Regions from separate parts of the Homo sapiens genome. Here region 1 is linked to region 2. The links come from fine-mapping of genetic effects on gene expression. Tissue or cell type: B cells. Region 2 holds a variant in brackets; the other region holds the start of a gene. All regions are shown on one strand. Distances are between the middles of the regions.

What was found. PIP is the estimated chance that this variant, and not a neighbour inherited with it, causes the effect.
Region 1: CD86 starts here. The variant in region 2 is the best candidate, but not a certain one, in a credible set for the expression of CD86 in B cells (Fairfax 2012, PIP 0.73).

Annotation. Positions count from the first base shown.
Region 1 is chr3:122,053,829-122,056,745 of GRCh38, forward strand. It overlaps CD86 (CD86 molecule), which reads left to right and starts at 1,534. Exons shown (of 7, transcript NM_175862.5): 1 at 1,534-1,675. The coding sequence starts at 1,662. It also overlaps a transcript of ILDR1 not described here.
Region 2 is chr3:122,079,086-122,082,002 of GRCh38, forward strand. All of the region lies in intron 1 of CD86 (CD86 molecule), which reads left to right. Among named protein-coding and RNA genes, the nearest start is that of CD86, 25 kb to the left of the region's middle. RefSeq lists enhancers at 2,479-2,568, 2,599-2,748, 2,769-2,818. The variant A/G (reference allele first, on the strand shown) is at 1,622.

The DNA of each region.
Region 1 (2,917 bases), 25 kb before region 2:
GCTACCAAGAAACTGAAAAATGACATCCCATACCTTTAATATTTAATATTTATAACAAATGAGGTTTACATGGATTTTTTTATCTCATCTTATTTCTGATGTGTTATGTAGTTATAAATACTATTTTATTTGCACTCCTGCTCTGCAATAATTTTGAAGATAGATAACTTATATTATTGCTGTCTTCATTTTTTAAAATTCTCAAATCCAGATGAAATTATCAAAGTTGATAAAATAATCATTGTTCTATCTTCTTATTTGAAGATTAATAATTGTGTTGATTTTGCTTCCTTGCTCTAGTTAGCAGTGATGTCATCTGCTATTTTTAAACTTCCTTGAAATAATATATGTAATCTACTTCTAATAAGTTTTTCTTATTTAGCATTTTGGTCTAAACTAATTTATAATTATTTAGCCTTATTTCTCCATGTTTAACTTGCTTTAAAGCTCAGCACTGGTGTTTTCAGCCATGGCTTCTCCATTTTAAGGCTATTTTAATTCATTTATTATTCTGGAATATATCCTTAAATAATTTATTTAGGAAGGCTGTCTTGGTGGTGGTATTTCTGTTGCAGTTGTTGTTTTCTTGCCTGCTTGGTGACATATTTCTATTGACTTGACACTTAACTGGCATCTTATCTAGGTAGATAATGCTAATTCAAAATTCTGCAGATATTGTTCTGTTGTTTTTTGCCATTTAGGGTTGAGTAAGATGCCAAGTTGTTTTTTGTTTCTCTGTAGTCATTCTGTTTTCATTTTGTTTTTAGCTTTGCCTTTGGAATTTAAAATGTTCAAAATGATTTGTCTGGATGAGAATCGATTTTCATAACTTTTGCTTTGATACACTAAACAGTTTGAGTTTCTAGATGATGCCCATTTTAATTCATACGAGGAAATATCTTCTAGTATAGTTTCTGCTTGATTAATTCTATGTTTGTCTCTTAGGGACATCTATTAATTTTATAATGCTGCCTTTTTTTCAGACTTCTGTTTCAGAATATTCGCTTTCATCAATGTAATCCTTGGCTATAGTAGGAATGAAATAATAAAAGCAGTAGCTTCTGTCTGCCCTCCTTGGTTATGCAGTCCTTACAGAACATCTCCCCATCTCCCATCCCCCCACCCCAGCTCAGTGAAACTCTCCACACTTTGGTTGTGGAAATTGGCAGGGTTAGGTGGCTACTCACTCCCAATCCACATCCACAATAAATCACTTTTTATTATCTTATCAAAATCTGTAGAATGCCTCTTTATTCTATTTTGTTGCTGCGGAGGTTTGTTTTCTCTTTCTAATTATTTTATTTTCTAGGTTTTTTGAGGGAATTTCAAGAGGGGAGATTTTTTATTCAGGCTCATCTTAACGTCATGTCTGGAACTCAAGCTACTGAATTATATATTCTTTAATACATATAGACCTACGTCAATGAGTTTAAACTGCAAGGAAAGGGTTAAATTTCTTCCTCAAGTGTGGTCAAAATCTGTAGAGAAAAGAGGAACAGCTTCTCTTAAAGAAAGTTAGCTGGGTAGGTATACAGTCATTGCCGAGGAAGGCTTGCACAGGGTGAAAGCTTTGCTTCTCTGCTGCTGTAACAGGGACTAGCACAGACACACGGATGAGTGGGGTCATTTCCAGATATTAGGTCACAGCAGAAGCAGCCAAAATGGATCCCCAGTGGTGAGTAATAATTCTTATTCTTTGCAGAGAAGTTATGAGTTGTGACTGCAGTGAAAGGCTGAGGTTGAAGATGGTGCTTTGATGTGTGTCCTTCACTTAGTTCCTAAGTGGAGAAGCTTTCTTTTTCTACAAAAGATCTTTGGCACATAAAGGCAAGAATTATTTGCAATGCCCAAAGCAGTTCATTGGTGGTAGTTATATATATTTTTAGGTGCCTAATTTTGGTTTTGTAAATCTGTTATTCAAATACTGAATGTTACAGTCATTGATTTTAGTGAAGAATCAGGAATTTTTAAAATATCTGCATAAGAATGACAAATAACAGGGAATATGTTTTTTGTCTACCAGGGTCAGTTTGGTCTGAGGGTGGAGGAATGAGATAGAGAAGGTAGAGGGAGAGAGATCAAGAAAAAGAAAGAGAAAAAAGAGGTATAAGGAGAAAATGCAAAACTCAGTTAATATGTCATAATCAGGCCATGGGAGATTCTGGGCAGGGTTGGGTAGTGGAAGGAGGTAGAGTGATTAAATTAGTTACCATGTATTGAACATGCATGATGTGCTGGGTACTTTACTAGTGCTATTTCATTGAATTTTATTCTTCACAATGACTTTTGGAAAGACATCATCATTCTTTTTGACAGATGGGGTAACTGTGGCTTAAAAAACTTGCCCAAGTTCACACTATTCATAAGGGGTAGAGCTAAAATCTTTCCTGCCCGCTTCGTGGTGCGCCAGAAGGTTTCTCCATGCTGTGGAGACTTCCTGGAAGGAGTCACACCCGCCCTTCTCTTGGGTGGTGGCAGCTGGCGCCAGTCACTATGTATTTATTTATTTTTAATTATTTATTTTTGAAACAGAGTCTCGCTCTGTCGCCAAGCTGGAGTGCAGTGGCGCAATCTCAGCTCACTGCAACCTCCGCCTCTCGGATTCAAACGATTCTCCTTCCTCAGTCTCCTGAGTAGCTGGGACTACAGGCGCCCACCACCACGCCCGGCTAATTTTTGTATTTTTGGTAGAGACGGGGTCCACCATGTTGGCCAGGATGGTCTCGATCTCTTGACCTTGTGATCTGGCCACCTCGGCCTCCCAAAGTGCTGGGATTACAGGCGTGAGCCACCGCGCACCCGGCCGTCACTATGTATTTATAATTACTGTTCTTTGAAAATCGAAGTAACTTTCATCTACCCAGTGCTTACTGGTTTGAGAAAAAGCTTTGTTGCTTTTATTTCAGAAGATTAAAAT
Region 2 (2,917 bases):
AAGCTGCACTCTTGTTTTCTAGCCTAGTGGGGAAATCACATTAATTTAATCACACTAAACATGACTACATAGCAATAGTGCTTTAAAGGGAAGGAAATTGTTCTATGTGACTATATCAGCTGATTAATTACCAAGCCTTTGCATTTGATATTTTGGTTAGTCTATTCTTCTTGAATTTCATATGCCTCTTCCTGGGTGGGGGTGAGGATGGGATTTTATGGAGTTGAGGCTAGGGCAGGTAGGGAGAAAACATGAGAAAGATGAAGAGATAAGCCAAGCCAGATTCTTCAGCAGAAAAATCAAGGTTGAAATACCATGTTTCAAAAATCAGACTGAGGTGGGAGTTGAGGTTAGGGGTCCCTAGGCCAGGGGATTGAAGCTTCAAAGAGATAAAACTAGAGCAAAAGCAAGCACAGAGAGTGGCAGAGAGGTCCCTGGGCATTTTTCCACAGTCCATTCTAGTGCTGGCAATCCACCTTTCATGGCCAGGCAGGTAAGAGTATTTGTGGGGTGGGAGAAAGGACAGGGCCATAGGCTGGGCACACAGCCCTTTACTGGCCCTTATCTCTCCTCTCTTCTCCTATACAGTGCTGTTTCCGAACTGTACATTGGCTTACACTCGGGCTGAGGTTTGGGAAATAGGCGCCATTTTGAATATGTGTGGAGGAAGAAAAGTGTGTCTTCAGCACTTTCCACCTCCCCATCACGGCCCTGAGACCTCAACACCGGGAAGCATCTCGTTCCCTATCGGTCCTCCTTTATTCATGGACGGATATGATTCCTTTCTAAGTTCCATGTCCTTTTTAGATAAATTAACTTGAACCTAATGCCTAATGGCTTAAAAACAAACAAAAAAAACCCTCTTCCTTCCAGCTAGCATTTGCATTTTAACAGGGGCTTTCAAAAAATGCCTTAGCCCAAGGAATGAGTAATGTGGGAATTCCAAGCAGCAGGGTAGGACTGGTGCACAGTATGGGGAGAGAAGGCCCCTCAAGTTGTGGCCCTGAAATGTTGGCTTCCTCTCTTTGACCATGATGCTGTTTCTGAGAAAACAAGAATCAGGCTACCTTAGGGGACCAGGATGGGCATGGCTCCCTTTTAGTGAGTTCTATGAGCCTCATACCTGACAGTCAGAGCCCTCGAGTGGATGAGCACAGACTAGAAGAAGCACTGTGAAACTTTGCATGATCCTTACCTTTTTGGCAAAAAGGAAAAAAAATCGTTCTCAAATTCATCAATAGTTTGAAATAGGGTGTGCCTTGATTCAGAAAGTTTCGATTCTAGATACAACTCGGAGAACTAGGCGTGTCTTGTACACAGATTTGCTCTTGGGGGACCGGAAAAGCTAAATGCTATCGCCATGCTATGCTCCTTCTTCTAGGCCAGTGAGGGGAACGCATTCTTCATTTTAATATTTCAGTTGCCTACAATATTGGAAGGTGGATAAAAGCACCCTCTGCTCCTTCTAAATCTGCGAAGACATTTCTTCTCTGCACCTACTCATCCTTGATGCAGCTCTCCTCATGTCTGTATGGAAACACTGTGCTCTCAAATGAGTTTCAGAAAGAACAACTCACGAAAGAAAACAAGCATTCGGTCAGAAAAATCTCCACAAATGGGG[A/G]ATAAGGGGGATTTGCTCCAAGGAGAGACTGGAAACCAAGTCAGACATAAAATCCAGCCTAAGCTAGAAGGAGACATGGCTGGTGGGAGCTTGAGGAAAACAGAGCTCAGGATGGAGGACGTCTCCACCTCCAGTCATGTCCTCTGTCCACCAGACACCAAGAAGTGTTCATGTTCCATCGAGGCAGCCCTCACACCCATCCCTTCCTCATCATGCCGACTGCCTCTTTACTGCTTCAGGCTCACCATCTCAAGTCGACGAGCCTGTAATACTGGCTTTCTTGATCACCCTGATACCAGCCGTCACCTCTTGACAGGCTTATTTTCTTTAAGCTGTCATTACACCATTTTTCTGCTCCCAAACTATTAATTCCAAACTTCCAATTTTCTGTTAAATTAAATATGAATTCCTTATTTGACTTTCCATGCCCTATTAGGCTATCTTGCTCCTTGCTTTACTTATAGAAACTAATCTCCCATTATTTATCCAAAGACAACCTCTGCTGCAGGCCAGTCAGCTTTTCTTACTGTCCTGTAAAAATTCCATGGTCACTCCTCCATTTCCATGTGTCCTTAAAAACTGTTATTTGATTGTGTCTCAGAAAGTCGTCAAAGAATATATACCAATGAAAAGCATCAAAAAGGTTATACTTGATGTTATGTGTGTATCAAAAATATGGCTGAAATATTTATCCAGTGAAACTCAATCAACACTAAAAAGTGGTTCTTTCGGAAGCATCAGTTCTTTGAGACCCATTAAACAGATGCCTCGGATGCAGGGTTATATATTATCAGGAATCTGTCTAGGGAAGAATTATTGGAAGCTTGCAAAGCCTTTCAAGGACAGAGGACGATAGCTACCACGTTGAGTTCTAGGAAATTAACCATTGTTATTGTTAAAGGAAGACAGCGTTTCTCAGAGGAAGACTGTTAAACAGTGCAGTGGCCCAGGCTAACAGCCCTCATAAGTGGGAGTATCAGAATGAGTGGACTTAATTACTTAAAACCAATACAGGGTGGAACTTCATCTGCTATAACAGAAATCAACTCGTGCAAGTTCTAACATGCAGGGTACAGTTCTGAGACCAAGTCTGACTCACCTGTCAAAGCTCAGCTCAACTATTACCACCTTTACACCACCCTTCCAAGCTGTAGGAGTGCTTGCTGTTCTCCATGTCTTCTGAAGCCCTGGATCACTTGTAGCCAGCTCAGCAGACTCTACCCAGACAGGGATCCTTTAAATGTACCATATTGTCTACTGTGTTAAAAATGAGAGGAACTGACTCAGGGTGAGAGC